Linked DNA regions of Homo sapiens. The protein of the gene in region 1 interacts with the protein of each later gene in a pairwise test. Each region holds a gene or a part of one and is shown in the gene's direction. Other genes may lie near its edges. The genes, in order: GSK3A, YWHAE and HTT.

Evidence for each region.
Region 2: the proteins of GSK3A (region 1) and YWHAE interact in binary tests that used the Homo sapiens proteins (3 or more experiments, as listed by UniProt).
Region 3: the proteins of GSK3A (region 1) and HTT interact in binary tests that used the Homo sapiens proteins (3 or more experiments, as listed by UniProt).

The regions. Positions count from the first base shown.
Region 1 is NC_000019.10:42,229,577-42,232,642, reverse strand, and holds the end of GSK3A (glycogen synthase kinase-3 alpha), read left to right. Parts: coding exon 1-147; intron 148-493; coding exon 494-586; intron 587-1,775; coding exon 1,776-1,849; 3' UTR 1,850-2,453; downstream 2,454-3,066. UniProt on the Homo sapiens protein: Constitutively active protein kinase that acts as a negative regulator in the hormonal control of glucose homeostasis, Wnt signaling and regulation of transcription factors and microtubules, by phosphorylating and inactivating glycogen synthase (GYS1 or GYS2), CTNNB1/beta-catenin, APC and AXIN1.
Region 2 is NC_000017.11:1,358,583-1,362,235, reverse strand, and holds part of YWHAE (14-3-3 protein epsilon), read left to right. Parts: intron 1-227; coding exon 228-334; intron 335-937; coding exon 938-1,144; intron 1,145-3,653. UniProt on the Homo sapiens protein: Adapter protein implicated in the regulation of a large spectrum of both general and specialized signaling pathways. Binds to a large number of partners, usually by recognition of a phosphoserine or phosphothreonine motif.
Region 3 is NC_000004.12:3,130,037-3,133,689, forward strand, and holds part of HTT (huntingtin), read left to right. Parts: coding exon 1-11; intron 12-268; coding exon 269-387; intron 388-1,249; coding exon 1,250-1,361; intron 1,362-1,601; coding exon 1,602-1,739; intron 1,740-2,525; coding exon 2,526-2,684; intron 2,685-2,777; coding exon 2,778-2,875; intron 2,876-3,653.

The DNA.
Region 1 (3,066 bases):
GCTCTAGCCTGCTGGAGTACACCCCATCCTCAAGGCTCTCCCCACTAGAGGCCTGTGCGCACAGCTTCTTTGATGAACTGCGATGTCTGGGAACCCAGCTGCCTAACAACCGCCCACTTCCCCCTCTCTTCAACTTCAGTGCTGGTGGTGAGGGCATAGCCTGGGATCTGGGGAGTGGGGCGGGGTAGGGGGGCAGCCAAAGATTGTGAGGAGCTTGGTGTTGAAGCAGGAGTGGGGAGCTAAGGGCAGGGTACAAGGCAGGCCTGGGGCTCAGGAAAGATGACTCCCAGATTCAGGGGGAATCGAACCTGCTTCAGTTGTGCTTTACTGTGATCTGCCTTGTGCTAAGCTTTTTCTGGTTTTTCATTGAGAGAGGTCTGTGGCTGAAGGTGTCCACAAACAACTGGCCTTCCCAATAGCTGGGTTCCCATTTGGTGCCCATCATAACCCTGCTGTAGTCTACCCTGACTAGCATGTCAATTCCTGTTTCTAGAACTCTCCATCCAACCGTCTCTCAACGCCATTCTCATCCCTCCTCACTTGAGGTCCCCAGCGGGCACTACCACCCTCACCCCGTCCTCACAAGGTAAGTGGGGACCATCTGCTGGGGGTTAAAGTATCTCTCAGCCTGGAGAGGGTGGGGCTGTTCGCTCAGTGACTGGGTTTCCTGAATGTATTTTTAAATCATCGACATTTTGATGGCATAGGAAACACATCTTACAACATGTGAATGACCACCTTTAGAGGGTATTCTTGCGTACAAATGTTTAAATGTGTTTAATGCCAATGGGAAAGCCAGAGAAATAACGTCTGGCCTGAACACAAACAAAAAGTTGAATTCGTTGCCCAAGTTTGTTTTTTTTTTTTTTGTGCAATAGAGTTTCACTCGCCACCCAGGCTGCAGTGCAGTGGCTCGATCTCGGCTCACTGCAATCTCCGCCTCCTGGGCTCAGGCAATTCTCCTGCCTCAGCCTCCGAGTAGCTGGGATTACAGACACACACCACTACGCCTGGCTAATTTTTGTATTTTTACTAGAGATGAGGTTTCACCATGTTGGCCAGACTGGTCTTGAACTTCAGGTGATTTTCCCGCTTGGCCTCCTAAAGTGTTGGGATTACAGGCGTGAACCGCTGTGCCTGGCCATGGTGTCCACGTTTAAAAATGGGGCTATTTTATGTAAAAATTCAGATTTCCTGTTTCTCTTGGGGAAGAAAATCAGATTGGGCAGCAATGGGCCCGCCCATCCTACTGACAGTAGACAGTGGGCGCCCTTTATATTTTTTAGACGGAGTCTTTTTCTGTCACCCAGGCTGGAGTGCAGTGGCACAATCCCGGCTCACTCCAACTTCTGCCTCCTGGGTTCAAGTGATTCTCCTGCCTCAGCCTCCTAAGTACCTGGGATTACACGCTCATACCACCATGCCTGGCTTATTTTTGTATTTTGAGTAGACATGGAGTTTCACCATGTTGGCCAGGCTGGTCTCGAACTGCTGACCTTGTGATCTGCCCACCTCAGCCTCCCAAAGTGCTGGGATTACAGGCGTGAGCCACTGTGCCCAGCCCAGCCACCGCCTTATATGGAGCCTGGCACTCTGGTGTGTCACTCAGTTACTATCGTGGCCCTTTAGCACTTGAGTTTGCAACCCTTCACCTAAAGTAACAGCTTGTAACTTTTAATGTAGCATCTATGACAAGAGAATTCCTACTTTTGGGTTGGGCGAAGGGGTGTCTGAAAGGCAAAGGCTAACTCTGCTCCTTCCCTGCCTCCCTCCAGCTTTAACTGAGACTCCGACCAGCTCAGACTGGCAGTCGACCGATGCCACACCTACCCTCACTAACTCCTCCTGAGGGCCCCACCAAGCACCCTTCCACTTCCATCTGGGAGCCCCAAGAGGGGCTGGGAAGGGGGGCCATAGCCCATCAAGCTCCTGCCCTGGCTGGGCCCCTAGACTAGAGGGCAGAGGTAAATGAGTCCCTGTCCCCACCTCCAGTCCCTCCCTCACCAGCCTCACCCCTGTGGTGGGCTTTTTAAGAGGATTTTAACTGGTTGTGGGGAGGGAAGAGAAGGACAGGGTGTTGGGGGGATGAGGACCTCCTACCCCCTTGGCCCCCTCCCCTCCCCCAGACCTCCACCTCCTCCAGACCCCCTCCCCTCCTGTGTCCCTTGTAAATAGAACCAGCCCAGCCCGTCTCCTCTTCCCTTCCCTGGCCCCCGGGTGTAAATAGATTGTTATAATTTTTTTCTTAAAGAAAACGTCGATTCGCACCGTCCAACCTGGCCCCGCCCCTCCTACAGCTGTAACTCCCCTCCTGTCCTCTGCCCCCAAGGTCTACTCCCTCCTCACCCCACCCTGGAGGGCCAGGGGAGTGGAGAGAGCTCCTGATGTCTTAGTTTCCACAGTAAGGTTTGCCTGTGTACAGACCTCCGTTCAATAAATTATTGGCATGAAAACCTGCTTTCTGTCCGGCTGCCTGTTTCCGCTGAGGTGGTGGGGGCTTCCGGTGGGGGGACTGTTCTGGGACGGGAGTGAGCTGCATCTCAGGCAGAGGGCTGTCCGAAGGCCCTGGCTCAGGTGCCCAACCTTCTCACACCGTGGCTTTCTCTGCACGTGTGGTGATGAGCTCCATCTGGGTTATCTGCTGTAGAGGCCTAGGAGGAGCCTGCTCCATGACCCAGCATAAATCATCTGCTTCTGCTTAGGGAGGGAGGGATTAACCTCCCAGTAACTGGTGAGCCAACTGGGGATCAGAGAGGGGAAGGCCATGGAGCTTAAGTGACAGAAGAGTCAGGACTTGAACAATGGGCCGTCTGTCTTAGCCCAAGCTGCCTGCTGCTCTAGGGTCTGGGGGGACATGAGATGATGAGGAGTCACTCAGGCCAAAACTTAGCCTGCTTGTAGACTCTTTGTTGGGTGGCCATGGCTGGAGATGGAACCCTAGAAGATTCCAAGCCTTCATTTCCAAGTCTTAAACAGGACACCTACCTGGTCCACCTCTTAGGGATGTTGGGAAGTGACAACCCTGTGAAGGTGGGGACAGAGAACTTGACTTTTATCCTCACTTAA
Region 2 (3,653 bases), on another chromosome or scaffold:
ATGTGTGTGTGTAACAATAGGCAGCATGCAGAAGGGAAAAGATACTTTTTATAACCTAGAGGCAGCTTTTCTCTGCTTTTGTGTCAAGAAGGAAGAAGGGAGTTTGGAGAGGGATACAAATTCTTTTTAATACTAAGCTCTCTACCTCAAAACCAGAGATAGAATATGTAATAATTTGTAGAATTTCTAGACTTAATCTGATTTAAAAAAAATTTTTTTTTTTTTAGGTTGAGACTGAGCTAAAGTTAATCTGTTGTGACATTCTGGATGTACTGGACAAACACCTCATTCCAGCAGCTAACACTGGCGAGTCCAAGGTTTTCTATTATAAAATGTAGGTTCTATACTAGAAGGGAAAATGTAAGATTGAAAGTTGGTCCTTTTAGAACCATAACTTTGTTCTATGTAGGTTTTCAACTTTTATTTAAGAATAATTGTTCAATGTTAGAAGGATAGTTAATATTGTAATGAAAAGGTGGTTGGGCTATTATGAAAATGTATTAGCTTTTGCTTATTTATATTCTTTTGTTTTTGTGAGACCTATCCCATTCCCCTCCCCCAAACGGCATACATTTCACAGTGCTTAGTGTTATATATAGACATTTTATTTTATGATTAATAAACTGTCATGCCATTCCTTGGAACCACTTGCTTGTTTAATTCTGGTCTATCAGGTGATAATTTTATTAATTTTTAGAGGCTCCTCAGTTAATTTCCTGGGATTTTTGCTTATATTTAGTAATATGAAATGTCTAAGGAAAAAAATGAAACGAAGCCAGTTATTCCTGAGAGTGTTTAAAATTATTGAAGTACACCTAATTGTTACATATATTTTTGTCACATTTTATATAATATAGAACAATTTTAGCTTATTTTCCTTTAAAAATCGTTCCTAGTTTAAATTTTTTTTTTTTTTTTAATTTTGGTTTTGTTTTAGGAAAGGGGACTACCACAGGTATCTGGCAGAATTTGCCACAGGAAACGACAGGAAGGAGGCTGCGGAGAACAGCCTAGTGGCTTATAAAGCTGCTAGTGATATTGCAATGACAGAACTTCCACCAACGCATCCTATTCGCTTAGGTCTTGCTCTCAATTTTTCCGTATTCTACTACGAAATTCTTAATTCCCCTGACCGTGCCTGCAGGTAAGTTGTGGGGAAGAACAGCAGCGCTCAGCGTGAAAGTTAAGGGGGGCGCTGTTTGGGTTTTCCGTGTTGTTTCTTGGGCCTGTCTTTGTAGACTTGGCTGCATAGTAATTCTTTTGGCTCTTACTGAAACTACTTTGGATAGTATTAAAACAGACCTGTCTCAACCCACTAGCATAGCAGTCAGCATAATTATTTTGATGTGGGATATTTTTGTTGCTGGTAGATTGAAATCTAACATGTTAAAATGAGTAGAGGAAGGAAATGAGAGGAATTAGAATTATTTTAATTTTTGTTATATTAGTTTTCAGTCTTTTTTTAAATTTGAGACCATGTCTCACTCTGTCTCCCAGGCTAGAGTGCAGTGGCGCCATCTCAGATCACTGCAGCCTTCACCTCCTGGGTTCAAGTGATTCTCCTGTCTCAGCCTCCTGAGTAACTGGAGTTACAGGGGCCTGCCACCATGCCCAACTAATTTTTTTTGTATTTTTAGTAGAGACGGTGTTTTCACCATTTTGGCTAGGCTGGTCTGGAACTCCTGACCTCAAGTGATCCGCCCGCCTTCGCCTCCCAAAGTGCTGAGATTACAAGCATGAGTCACCACACCCAGCCAGTGTTCTGTTTCTATGGGCATGTTTTTAATAGTTACTCTCGTAGCAAACATAATTTTATATTTTCTGTTTTAGCATAAACAAGTTTCAGTCTTACTAATGTGTGTTAAACTGTTCCCCCATTTATACTTCAGCTTGTTCCCAGTTTTTGATAATGTAGATAAATATGTAAGGAATATTTATACGTACATAACTTTTTACTTTTAAAAAGTTGTGATAGCCTGGGTGCAGTGGCTCACGCCTGTAATCCCAGCACTTTGGGAGGCTGAGGTGGGTGGGTCACCTGAGATCAGGAGTTCGATACCAACCTGACCAACATGGTGAAACTCTGTCTCTATTAAAAATACAAAATTAGCCGGGTGTGGTGGTGCATGCCTGCAATCCCAGTTACTCGGGAGGCTGAGACAGGAGAATTGTTTGAACCCAGGAGGCAGAGGTTGCGGTGAGCCTCGATTGCACCAGTACACTGTAGCCTGGGTGACACAGTGAGACTTTTTTTCAAATCTCTCTCTCTCTCTCTCCCCCTCTCTCCCCCCCTCCCCCTCCTCCCCCCCTCCCCCTCCCCGTCTCCCTCTCTCTCCCCGTCTCCCTCTCCCTCTCGCCTGGGCGACAAAGCGAGACTTTTACACACACACACACACACACACACACACACACACACACACACAACAATTTAGTGGCACCGAATACATTGACAGTGTTGTGTAATCACCACTATTTGAAAACTTTCTCTTCACCCCACACAAAGCGAATTATAGCCATTAAACAATCAATAACTTCATTTCCCCTCTCCCTAGCTGCTAGTAACTTTTATTTTACGTTGTCACTATGAATTTGGCCCATTCTAGATACCTCATGTAAGTGGGATCATATAATATTTGTCCTTTTGTGGCTGTCTTTATTTCATCTAGCGTAATGTTTTTATCCATGTAAAAGCATGGATCAGAGCTTCAGTCCTTTTAGTGACTGAATTTACACAATTCATTTTATGTATTTTGCACACATTGTTTAGTCATTAAACTTTTGGTGGTCAGTGGGTTTCCACCTTTTCCCTATGGTGAGTACAATGCTGCTATGAAAATGGGTGCACTAAGTATTTGCTTGAGTCCTTGTATTTAACTTCACCTTGAGGTGGAATTGGGACTGAAAATTCTGTGGGTAACTTTTTTTTCCGGACAGGATCTTGTTCTGTCTCTGCAGTTGTGCACTCATAGCTCACTGCAGCCTTGGCTTCCTGGGCTCAGCCGATTCGCCTACCTGAGCCTTCCAAGTAGCTGTCACTAGAGGTGGATGCCACCATACCTGGCCTTTTCTTTTCCTTTTTTTTTTCTTTTTTCTTTTTTTTGAGGGAGAGCCTGGCACTGTCACCCAGGCTGGAGTGCAGTGGCGTGATCTTGGCCCACTGCAACCTCTGCCTTCCAGGTTCAAGCGATTCTCCTGCCTCAGCATCCAAAGTAGCTGGGATTATAGGCGCCTGCCACCATGCCTGGCTAATTTTTTGTATTTTTAGTAGGGATGGGGTTTCACAGTGTTGGCCAGGCTAGTCTCGAACTCCTGACCTCGTGTGATCTGCCCGCCTCGGCCTCCCAAAGTTCTGGGATTACAGGTGTGAGCCACTGTGCTTGGCCAGCCCTTTTTTTTTTTTTTTTTTAAGATGGAGTCTCGCTCTGCTGGCCAGGCTGGAGTACAGTGGTGCGATCGCAGCTCACTGCAACCTCCACCTCCCAGATTCAAGCGATTCTGGTGCTTCAGCCTCTCAAGTAGCTGGGATTACAGGCATGTGCCACCATGCTTGGCTAATTTTTGGGGGCATTTTTAGTAGAGACGAGGTTTCACTATCTTGGTTAGGCTGGTCTCAAACTCCTGACCTCAGCCTCCCTCCCAAAGTGCTGGGATTA
Region 3 (3,653 bases), on another chromosome or scaffold:
CTCTTCCATGGGTATGTGGACTACAGGTGATGCGCTACAAAGTGGTTTGTATTCAGACCTGGACATCTTAATTATATCTTTGCTTCCAAGAAGAAGTCCTTTGATACTGTTTTCTGAGTTCTGAATAGCTGATGAAAATGACCAATTGAGGAATAATCATACTTTTTCTTGATCTAAATCTTATACTTTTGAGTTATCTTAGCATAAATGTATAATTGTATTTTAAGTGGAAATTTGTCACTTAATCTTGATTTCTCTGTTTTTAAAGCCCTTCAACAGGCACATTTATTGAAAAACATGAGTCACTGCAGGCAGCCTTCTGACAGCAGTGTTGATAAATTTGTGTTGAGAGATGAAGCTACTGAACCGGGTGATCAAGAAAACAAGGTGAGGGACATAGGCTTGAGACGACTTGGTGTTTCTGAGCTTGTGTGAGGATTTAAAATCGCCCTGGCTACTGTCTACTTTATTGCTTTCCCATCCCTGGGCCTTTAAATTTCCCCTTTAAATACCAGCTCTTCCCAGGCCTGTTGTTTTCTGCCTTTCCAGGTACTACCCACAGCCTTGAGAATTGCCTGAGTTCTGCCTCCTTTGAGAGTGTGCCCCAGACAAATCTATTCTGTACTGAATGTTTCCTTGTCTGATTTCTTGGATCATTCATTTGATGGTTGCGTATGGCCTGCAACGTTTCTTGTTTTGGTTCTACTGAACTGTTCTAAAAGTCTCTCTTCATATTATCTTTTTACATGTAAATGTAACTGTCTTCACTTTTAATTCCTCAAGGACAAGGAATAGCGTTTCACAGTTCGTCCCATCAATCAGAATTATAGCCTTTGGCATCTCCCTATCTACCAGGCCCACTTCCTCTTAGATTTGGGCTTCCCCAGGCTGTTGCCTTTCCCCAAGTAGCTTCTGCTTGTCCTGTAGAAGACCTTTCATGCTTTGCTTCTGCAGCAGCCGTTCCTGAATGCCTAGTGTCAACTGCCTTCTTACCACGCCCACCCTCCCTGCATGCTGCATTTATCCCCTGCCACAGCCCTGTGACCCTGTGTCCTGCTGCCTCTGACTTGTCTGTTTCTGCTTGGCCATGGTCTCTGTGAGGTCAGGTGTGCATATGGGCACAAACCAGGGCATCTCTTTATCCCCAGCACCTGGCTTAAGTGCTGCTCTGGAACTATCTGTTGAATGAACTAATGCATGAATGTATTGTTGAGTATGAGACAAACAAGTGTCATTGTCTCCTTTCTAGCCTTGCCGCATCAAAGGTGACATTGGACAGTCCACTGATGATGACTCTGCACCTCTTGTCCATTGTGTCCGCCTTTTATCTGCTTCGTTTTTGCTAACAGGGGGAAAAAATGGTGAGTACAAAAGGGGATGTGCACAGTTGAAGGAAATAACTAGGTTTCAGAGGTCAGCTTGGTGGCCTGTTTTTGCCTTGCGTGCAGCAGAGGAAGTAGAATCTGAGGATGAGTTTGGTTTTCACTAGCCGAGGGGAGGGAGGAAATGATGGGAGCAGGTAGGTTATTGGGTCTGGTTTTGTTCATTTGAAAACAATCTGTTGTTTGAGGCTGAAGGTGGCTTGGGTGATTTCTTGGCAGTGCTGGTTCCGGACAGGGATGTGAGGGTCAGCGTGAAGGCCCTGGCCCTCAGCTGTGTGGGAGCAGCTGTGGCCCTCCACCCGGAATCTTTCTTCAGCAAACTCTATAAAGTTCCTCTTGACACCACGGAATACCCTGGTATGTTAAAAGTTCACATCTTATTTTCTCAGATTTAATCATTATTGTAAAAACTATTTCAGTATTGACTATTTTAGTTTTAGAGCAGTAAGTGTTTTGAGTTCATTTGGGATATTTGACCTGCGTTGTAGCTCTTCAGAAAACACATGAATAGTGAAGTTCTTTGTTTCATGGGTTCCCTTTAGATGAAACCCATAGAGGAGAAAAGTAGAAACCTCAGCACGTAAGAGCCAACATATATACACATCGGATTTAAACCTAAAGCACAAATTGTGCCTGGTCGCAGTGGCGCTGAGTCGCACTCAGCCAGGCCAGGCATTCACACTCAGGGTGAGTGGGAACCAGGACTGGCTGAGGCAGCAGTGGACCCAAGTCTCCATCGCGCCCATGCTTACTATGGAGCCTTCTCGTTCTCTCTTTTTCTTTGGGTGAGAGGGTACACTTGTGTTTTTGAATTTATATGAGGTAAGTGTGTAATAGGGTTTTTTCTAATCTTTTTTAAGTGGAATCTGGAATTTTAATCAGATTTATTATCTGACAACCTAGAATTATAATCCAGAAAGTCTGTGGTATTGAGGACATATTGGCAATATGATGAATCTCTAATTCTTAAATCCTGAAACTTTTTTTTTTTTAATCACTTAGGGTTATTATAGTGAAGTCATTTCTGAATTTGGATCTTCTCTTCACACCTCTTTTTCTCTTTCCTGAGAATTAAGCTTTTGTTTCGAGTTAGAAAGTTGATAGTAGGGAATTGTTCCATGGCTGAGCAATTTATCTCCACAGAGGAACAGTATGTCTCAGACATCTTGAACTACATCGATCATGGAGACCCACAGGTTCGAGGAGCCACTGCCATTCTCTGTGGGACCCTCATCTGCTCCATCCTCAGCAGGTCCCGCTTCCACGTGGGAGATTGGATGGGCACCATTAGAACCCTCACAGGTAACGGCCAGTTTTTCAGCTGTGTTTTTTCTAGTTATGCTTACTAAGGTTTAAGTTTAGATGATGATGTTTGTTGCTTGTTCTTCTGGTTAGGAAATACATTTTCTTTGGCGGATTGCATTCCTTTGCTGCGGAAAACACTGAAGGATGAGTCTTCTGTTACTTGCAAGTTAGCTTGTACAGCTGTGAGGGTGAGCATAATCTTCTGTGGAACCATTTCTTCACTTAGTGGACATTTTATCATTGCTACAATTAAAATTGGAGCTTAATAGGAAATATTTCCATGCACTCTAAAGCTGTAACCAGTAATACCCACCATGTATCCATCTCTCAGCTTTAGAAAGAAAACGTTGCCAGTAAAGTTAATGCTTCATAAACTTCAGTTTAAGTTCTAATTCTCAGAATATTTGTTTGAAATAGACCTCTTCCTAAAGGATATATTTAGAAATAACCTATCATTAAGTGTAAAGTCTGTTGAATATGCTGGGCACGGTGACTCACACCTGTAATCTGACCACTTTGGGAGGCCAAGGTGGAAGGATTGCTTGAGCCCAGGAGTTCAAGACTATGGGCAACATAGTTGACCCTGTCCCTACAGAAAATTAAAAAAAAAAAAAAAAAAAGTAGCTGGGTATGGTGGTGCATACCTGTAGTCTCAGCTACTCGGGAAGCTGAGGTGGAGGGGGGATTGCTTGAGCCCCAGAGATCAAGGCTGCAGTAAGGCGTGGTTACACCACTGCCCTCTAGCCTGGGCAACAGAGTGAGACTGTCTCAAAAATAATAGTAATAATAATCAGTTGAATTAAAAAAAAAAAAAAAAAAACCACTGTGCTAGGCCCATAGTATGGTAAGAGTTAAAGTGAGCCTTAGGGATTATTTACTCAACCTCTGTTTCTGTATAAAGTGGAATAGGCTCAATTCTTTAAGTGATAGCATGTTGAACCTTTCCATACCAACTGGCTCATAAGT